Regions from separate parts of the Homo sapiens genome. Here region 2 is linked to region 1. The links come from fine-mapping of genetic effects on gene expression. A gene starts in region 1. The other region holds a variant in brackets. All regions are shown on one strand. Distances are between the middles of the regions. Region 1 holds the start of TEK (TEK receptor tyrosine kinase). Region 2 overlaps TEK (TEK receptor tyrosine kinase).

Region 1 (4,402 bases):
GTATTGCAAAGTGCTATAACACAGTTGCTTTAGGAGTAAAAAAAGTGAATGAAAACAGTTGTGTGTGTATTAACCTACAAAGTACCTCAGAGAAACTATAGACACCTGGGCTTCACATCACTATAATCCCTGGTATAGAGTAAGTTCCAGATTTCATGTCACTGGTAAATAATGGCACTCAGAAAAAAAAAAATCAAAAATGGAATCATGATAATTATTTGAAGTACATATTATTGGAGAAGTCAACATTATTTAAACAATTTCCACATAAATACTGAAGCCACCTAAAATCTTTTAATTTTTAGCAACTTGTGTTACACATTCTTAAAGAATATTATTAAATTCTCAAAATATTGGTTGTTGAGAGCTATAAAACAAACTGTATTCAACTCAGTTATTTCATTGGATTTGTTTTTTGAATATTTAATAAAATAGTTCAAACACCTAGAAAATATAGCAGATACTTATGTATACTCGAATCAAATTATATTAATATGCCCTATATCCATGAAGTTTAGTGAATTTTCCCAAATTCATCTCCAATATCAATTCGATTTTCGTTATTAAAATTAGAATGTTTTCAAACCGAAGGGGAGAGACTGATGGCAATGATAAATGTATTTGTGATATGTAGTTCAGGTTTGGATACTGCCTTCTACCTATGTCACATAGGCTGAGTGAGCTACAGAGGCACACCACTATCTGGAGTATCTAAGCAATAAACACGCTGAACCCAACACACTGGCCAACCACTCCTTCACTCTACAACAGGCTTCATATACTCTCCTGTGTTAAAGATTTTGGTAACTGCCTAAATTTTTGTTTCATTGGGCCAGTAAACCCTTTATGAATTACTACATGGCAAACATTTTTTAAAATAAAACAAAAATTCTAATAGCCCCAATCTCCCTGACCCTAACTACAAGAAAAAAAAAAAAGCCTACAATTTCATTGCTTTGCTTAAAATAGGATGTAGATATAAAATCTTTTTACAGAAAAGCATCTTTGTTCCCTTTTAACAGTGACAATCTATACACTGCCTTAATTGGGCCCCTGTATTTCTCAGCATGAATTTCATTTTTTACTGAAGATTTTCTTTAAAGCAGGTAAAACCGGTTTGTTCTTTAAAAAAAAAATCAATAAGAAAAACACTCCAGAATGAGGAGCAGGAAAATAATGCATGATAGTAAGGGGATCTCTTCAAATAAGATGATTTAATCGGTCCTCAAAGAGTTTCTAACACAGGGGCCAATCACCCAGAAGACAAACTAGCAAAATCAGTTCATGCCACAGAGCCTTTGCATTTCAATCCTTCCACACATATTGACTGGAGACTCACAGAGAAATGGTGCCTTTGCTACAGCCACCCCTTGTTCATCAGCACTGATGAGATTTGGGGAGAGCACCCAGAAATCACTAACTCTGTTTTTTAAAATACTAAATTAAAAAAAATAAAGCCAAACCTTACCAGAAAGGAGCAAGCTGACTCCACAGAGAACTAAGCTGGCTAAAGAGTCCATGCTTCCCCAAATCTCTCCATCCAGTTTCCACAAATGTGCATGAGGTCCCAAGGATCCTTTCAAAAACCCAGCGGTTTGTGACTTTCCATTAGCATCGTCCTACTACGTCTTGTTTACAAGTTAGAGGCAAGAAGGAACAGCACAGAAGCAGGCTGTAACAGTCTCATTTCTGTCTGAGCACAGGGAGTTTTAAGTTCCTTTTTCCTGTTTCCTTTGTAGATTAGGATGGGAAAGGCTGTATCTTAAAGGCATTTGGTATCAGCAGGGCTGGGGGCACTCAAGCCCTATCCATCTCGCAATTCATCAAAACACTTATCTGTTGCTGTTGCTTCTGCTGCTGCTTTTGCTGCTGCTGTAGGGGCAGAGGAATTTTTGTTGGAAGTGTGGGTCCCGGTCAGCATTTTCAGAAACAATAGGGGTATCCTCTCATAGGCGGGAAACTGAGAATAACAAGCCCTCCACCTATGTATGGTATGCGATGATGACCAATCCTTCTCAGACTTCTAACAGCTCTCCCGGGGCTACTGGGATCTCTGACAGAAGGAGCTTTTGGGTGTGGGAAGCCGTTTTGGCTTTTGTTTTCTCATTTTAACCCACATGGTTTGAATTGGGAGAAGAAGGTTTCCGTGATGAGAAAATACAACCTGAAAAGCAATTAATTTCAGTGAGCACCGGTGAGGTCAATGCTCAATGTAGCCCCAAGAGACCAGAGTCCAAAATTGTTAGCCTGTTTTCTTTCACACAGATGGCCTGTTGGTTGGCCATTAGCCCAAAGATACCCATGTTGCCGGCTATAGCTTTAATTTTCATTAACAATTCATCTAAAGGTGATCAAATTTCTTGAAGAAGTTGGCATAGAAGGATTTTGGTAATGAGAAAGATTTGGTAGTCATTGAGCAATGGTGTTTCAGAAGCAAATTATATATAACATTTAAAAACTAATCTGTGTAAAAACACAAACATACAGGATTAGATTGGGATAAAAATGGTGCTCATGAGAGCAAAGAGAGTTCATGGACCAAAATGAAAATAGCCATGGAATGTACAATATCTAGAATGAGGTCAGAGACCCTACACTTATCCAGATAATTACTCCACAATATGAATTATGACATTAGATTAGAGAGTATACACTTTGCTCATCATCGACCTTCATGCCTGAGGAAATCATTATACTCCTCCTTTTCCTACCCACCAGAGGAAAAGGCAGATGCAGCTAGTCTTGACTAATTTCTGTCCCAGGTTTTATCACATCGATGATGATCTTAAGAACCAATTAATGTTTCCAGTTTGCAGGTGTGAAAAAGCCCAGGTTCTGTCTGCAAACAGAACTGGGTTCAAATACTGGCTCAGCCACATGTGTAGCTGAGAAAAGTTACTTAGTCTTTTTGAGCCTCAGTTTCAACAGCTGTGAAATGGCAAAAATATCTCCTTCCCAGGTGTTTTGAGAGGAATAAATGAGGTTTAAAAATATAAAACCATTTGGTACTATGCCTAGTTCTTTGAAGGTTCTCATTAAATGTTAATAAGTTTATTTTCTTTCATCTTTCCATTCAGTCTCAATTTAAATTCCAAGAGCTTCTACTAAAAAGCTATTTTCTATTCCTATGAGATGACTTTAAATTTGTCATCACGAAAAAAAAAAACAAAAACAGTGGGCCTGGCACAGTGGCTCACGCCTATAATCCCAGCACTTTGGGAGTGGATCACCTGAGGTCAGGAGTTTGAGACCAGCCTGGCCAACATGGCAAAACCCCATCTCTACTAAAAATACAAAATTTAGCTGTGCTTGCTGGCGTGCACCTGTAACCCCAGCTACTCTGGAGGCTGAGGCAGGAGAATTGTTTGAACCTGGGAGGCAGAGGTTGCAGTGAGCCGAGATCGTGCCACTGCACTCCAGCCTGGGTGACAGAGCAAGACTCTGTCTAAAAAAAAAAAAAAAAAAAAGAAAAAAAAGAAAGAAAAATGAAGTTCCACACAGGCTAAGTTACTTGCTCTGCTGTGAGTAGCAGAGGTAATAATATCTGAATCCTGAGCTCTGGACCTCCAATTTTTCCCTTGTTTCATAGTTGAAAAGTAGATCAAGAGTAATGTAGGACATCACAAACACCAGCAGGGTACACCTAGACCTTACAGAAGTATTTGAAATGAAACTTTGACAGATAAGAATAGTTTGGTGACACTGAGAAGTGCGGTCAGTTCTTAGTGTGCTTCTGAAATAACTAATGTCAGGATCGGTGGGTGCTGTATTAATTCACTTCAGGAAAATGAAAGGGGCCTCCTCATGAGTCAAGCTCATTCCATTTAATTTGATTTTTCCAGACATACCTACAGTAAAAGCATAAAGAAAACCAAACCAAACTAAACAAACAAACAAGGCTCTTGGCTGATTCTTCATTTTCTATTTCCTGCTTTTTGCACTCAATACATGAAAAACACTATAGACAACATTAAAAGTCTTTGAGACTAATTAACAAAGGTATCAATAGATAACAAAACGGTTTTTCTGAAAGAGGTGGAAAATAACTTACATAATACTACTATACACTGGTATCACATGTCAAGAGGTCAACATCACAAACACAAAGCAAAAGCCTTGTATGCATACCCTTTGGCCCAGAAAATCCAGTTTTTTTTTTTTTTGAAATAGAGTCTCACTCTGTCGCCCAGGCTGGAGTGCAGTGGCACTATCTCGGCTCACTGCAACGTCCGCCTCCTGGGTTCAAGCGATTCTCCTGCCTCAGCCTCCTGAGTAGCTGGAATTACAGGCGTGCACCACCACACCCGGCTAATTTTTATACTTTTTAGTAGAGATGGGGTTTCACCATATTGGCCAGGATGGTCTTGAACTCCTAACCTCATGATCCACCCCCCCCCCCCCT
Region 2 (4,402 bases), 81 kb before region 1:
GAGAGAAAAAGATGCTTAGGAGGTTTGCTCAAAATGACCAGAAAACTGATTTGCAATGGTCATACTATTACAATGAAGCATTCTGAAGTCCTTGAAAATAGCACCCATAAACAAATGGTATCTGTCTCTTTTCTCCTTACCTATTTGCTTTAGTCAGCCTCTGTTTCTCCATGGATACTGCAAAGATAAATTTCTGCCTTATCATATGATAAATTCCTACTTGGTAAGAAAAAAAACTGGGATGTGTTTAACAGTTCTTAGAAGACCACTTTGTGGATGTCCACTTGTAGACAAAGGTGATGGATTATTACCACCATATGACAGCAAAAGACCTAGCCATTGATGTTGGAAACAGCAATTCAGCAAATCAGCCTGACATCCCTGGAATTCTGAATTTTGATAGAATCTACAATAGTATGTGAAGGACTCAGTAATAATACCATTTTATTCGGTCTACCCAGGTCAGCTAGTGTTATTCAGCCCAAAACCCTCCTCCTCTTCTCTTTTTTTTTTTCCATAGTTTTCTTAATTATCTCCATATAGTGAATAGAGGGTCATTTTAAGGAAATCATAGGCATAGTAAGACAAAGGTATGGGCGGAGGAGGACATGCTGCCTACAAGCATGTTAGTGGCAGGTCTTTTTACAGAATAGTCCAATTGAAGCAGCATGGTCACTGATAATGCTCTTTGCTTTTTAAAATTGTGATTTTACATTATCATACAACAAATATAATTGTAATTTGTGTTTCAAAATAAATTCAACTGTTTTCATGAACTTTTGGCATTTTGTCACATTTTGTTCAATTATTTTTTTCTTTCAGGAAGTTAGGGGAGGGGTCTGTAGCTCCCTTTGCCTGTCCTTGTCCTCCCCCGAGCCCATTCCAGTCTGCCACAGCCCAAACTTTGCAGGTTCAAATTCCTTCAAAAATCTCTCTGTGTTAAGAGTCTGCAGGACAGGGCAAGACATGAAATGAGAAAAGGAATAAACAACTCAATACAGCAGCAACAATCACCCCCAGGATTTAGGCAGATTAAGCCTCTCTGCCCTTCCAGCAGGCTCTGGACTTTCCTGCTACCATATTCATGGCATAAACAAGTGCCTTTCCCCATGACCAGCCAAGATAGAATAACTAAAAACAGGACTGGAGATCCAAAAAGAAATATTGATATAGATAGTAACTCATGGTGTGAGCTGGTTCTGTGTTCTAGAGCGCACAGTGACTTCAGAAAGTTAGCCCCAGAGCTCAGGGGCCCCCTGCACTCTCTCTTGAATACTCTGAAACAGAATCCTCTGCAACAGCCACCACCTTGAGGTAGAGGATTGAGGCAGGGAGAAGGGAATTTCTAGATTTGGAGAAAAATAATTCTCCTGGTGCCACATCCCCAGCTGGCATCTATCCTGTCCAAAGCTTACCTTGAATATGTTGCCAAGCCTCATAGTGATTAACGGGTTTGTATAGAAGCTTCTTGGATTTGATTGGTCCATCCCCAAAGTAAGGCTCAGAGCTGATGTTGATGACAGCAAAGTTATGTCCAGTGTCAATCACGTTTGGGGCATTCAGGGGCTTTGGAAGAACTAAATACAATTTCAGAAGGCAGATTAGTCCTTCGGCTTTGAGGTTTTGTGATTGTTCTTAGGTAGAGGTAGAAGATATGTTTTACATGTCCAACAAAGTCCTCTTAAAGTTTTCTGCTCAGACTCAGTGAGATCACCTGCTCTCTAAGCTCTCTGCTTTGCTTTTGCTTCCCCAACCCATTATCCTCAAAGTGCTTCCTTAAAATAAATGTGCCCCTTTGCTCAAGACCCTTCAATGGATTCTCATCACATGTAGGATAAAACCAAAAATTCATAT[C/A]GTGACCAGCCAGGCCTTGAGTGATTAAGCCCCTGCCCACTCTCCAGCCTCCTCTTCCCCTCACCTAGTACCCTCCAGTCCCACTGACCTTTCACTTCATCCAACTAACAAAGCACGAACCTCCTTTCTTTAGATTGATTGTGGATGTCTCTCTTCTGCAAGGAATGCTCCACCTCCCATTATTCTCCCAGTTAATTCTTAGCTCTGATGTGAATATTTCACAGGTGGCTATCATAGAAACTGAATTAAGGTATTGTATACTTTCACAGAACCTCTACTTTTCCTTCATGGTGATTTTTAGGGGTTATTACTCTTTGTAGTATGATTATTTGATTATTTGATATTGGTCTTTCTTCTAGATCATAATTCATTCTCTCTCTATATATATATATCTCTCTCTTTCAGCCAAACAACTCAAATTTATTATAGTTCTAGAAGTCAGAAGTCAGACATGCATCTCACTGTGCTAAAATTAAGGCATTAGCAAGGCTGTGTTCCTTTCTGGAGGCTTAGGAGACCATCTGTTTCCTTGTTCTTTCTAGCTTCTAGAGACTGCCTGCATTCCTTGGCTCAAGGCTCCTTCCTATCCCTTCAAAGTCTACAACATCAGGCCTCTCTGATCCTTCTCTGACCACCACATCTCTGACTATTGTCAGGAAAGTTTCTCTACTTTGAATGACTCAAGGGATTGGAATGGGTCCACTCAGATAATCTAGAACAATCTCCCCATCTCAAAGACCACATCTTCTCAATGGGGATGACAGCGCCCCAGAAACAATGAAAATTGGTTCTTGGAGGATGCAAAAATTTTAGATATTACAATGGGTTGCAGCCCGCCAAAGAGCCATAGTACATAAAGAGATATAAAGTACATCTGTGATAATAAAATCTTATGGTGATGAGGGAGAGTTCTGGAATACAATTTCTAAAAGAGCTCCTTAGTGGGATGATAATAAAAAGGTTGTGAAACACCACACTACACTCTAAATTCCATTAGGGCAAAGACTGTGTAGTTTGTTCACCAGCACCGACTAGGTGCTGAGTTATTGTTTGTGAAGTGAATTTCCAATGAGCTCTATAGTTCCCTTGGCCCAGCCTTCTTAGAAATGCATAACTCGTTTTGTTTTTCCTCCCCAAGAGTGTGTATTATACAATGCAGAACCTTTCAGATTTCAGAGGACATTGCAATGTTCAGTAATTTTTCCTTTTCTTTCTGTCTCAATGCTTTGGCTCACCTTCCTTAGACATAACCTTCAAGTCTTTGCTCAAATATCTTCTCAGGAAGGCTTGATTACCCTATTTAAAATTACAGTCACCACTCCAGCCCTGCCCCAGCATTCTCTACCCCCATTTCTGCTTTAATTTTCTCCAAGACACTCAGCATTTTCGTGAACTGTACATTCTACTTATTTATTTGCTCACTGTTTATCTCCCTGTGGGAATGTAAGCTCCATGGTGAGTCTTTTTCCCCCTGTATTATTCACTGCTCTATTCCCAGTGCCTAGAACAGGGGCTGAAACATAATAGGCCTAAAGTAAATTCTATTGACTAAGTGACGACTTAGGAAGTTGTCCAAGGTCAGGATAATAAAGCCAGTAAGAAGCAGTATCCCCTAACTGGAGGCAGATCATGCCAATATTAAGTTAGATAAGTCTGAGTACACATTTCACTTAGGCTAGAAAGGAGGGCAGTGCTGTAAGTAAATTTGTTCAAGTAATGCTTTCCTTGTATGATAAAATAAGGCCACCCCTTTCTTTAAACCAGCAGATGCACATTTTATTACAGCCATTAATGTCAGTCTGTGATACTTCTACAAGGGTTTAAAAATTGCTACAAAGGCTTCCTCTTAGTAATCTACTATTTTATTTTTTGCCTTTTAATCATTTTTACTGAGATGGAACATACATATTGTAAAGCGTGAATATCTTAAGTGTATTTAGCTCAAGGGACTTTACCTATGTGTACACCCATGTAACCACCACTCAGATTAAGATAGAAAATATTCCCAGCCCTCCAGAAGGCACCTGTGTGCCCTTTTCCAGTCAATATCCTCTACCCAGAGGTAGCCTCTATTCTGACTTCTGTGACTGAAGATTAGTATTGCCTGTTCTTTAGCTTTATATAAATGGAATCATAAAGCATGTACTTTCTTTCACTGGTTATCATGTTTGCAAGATTCATCCATACTGTTGCGGAAATTAATTCTTTTTTATTACTGTTTAACATTCCTCTGCATGATTTTATGGGCTAAATTGTATTCCCCCCAAATCACACATTAAAGTCTTAACCCCTAGTACCTCAGGATGTAACCGTATCTGGACATAAGGCCTTTAAAGAAGTAATTAATTTAGAATAAGTTTATTAGGGTTTGCCATAATCCAATATGACTGGTGTCCTTGTAAGAGGATTAAATTAGGACACAAGTACAAAGGGAAGACCCTGTACCTGTGTCCTAATTTAATCTCCCTGTGAAGATACAGGGAGACAGTGGCCATCTACAAGCCAAGGAGAGAAGCCGCAGAAGAAATAAACTCTGCTGATGCCTTCA

The links. PIP is the estimated chance that this variant, and not a neighbour inherited with it, causes the effect.
Region 2: its variant is fine-mapped to the expression of TEK in whole blood (INTERVAL, PIP 0.94).

The regions. Positions count from the first base shown.
Region 1 is chr9:27,106,709-27,111,110 of GRCh38, reverse strand. It overlaps TEK (TEK receptor tyrosine kinase), which reads right to left and starts at 1,886. Exons shown (of 23, transcript NM_000459.5): 1 at 1,469-1,886. The coding sequence starts at 1,520.
Region 2 is chr9:27,187,704-27,192,105 of GRCh38, reverse strand. TEK (TEK receptor tyrosine kinase) reads right to left here. Exons shown (of 23, transcript NM_000459.5): 10 at 1,416-1,577. Among named protein-coding and RNA genes, the nearest start is that of TEK, 81 kb to the right of the region's middle. The variant C/A (reference allele first, on the strand shown) is at 1,855.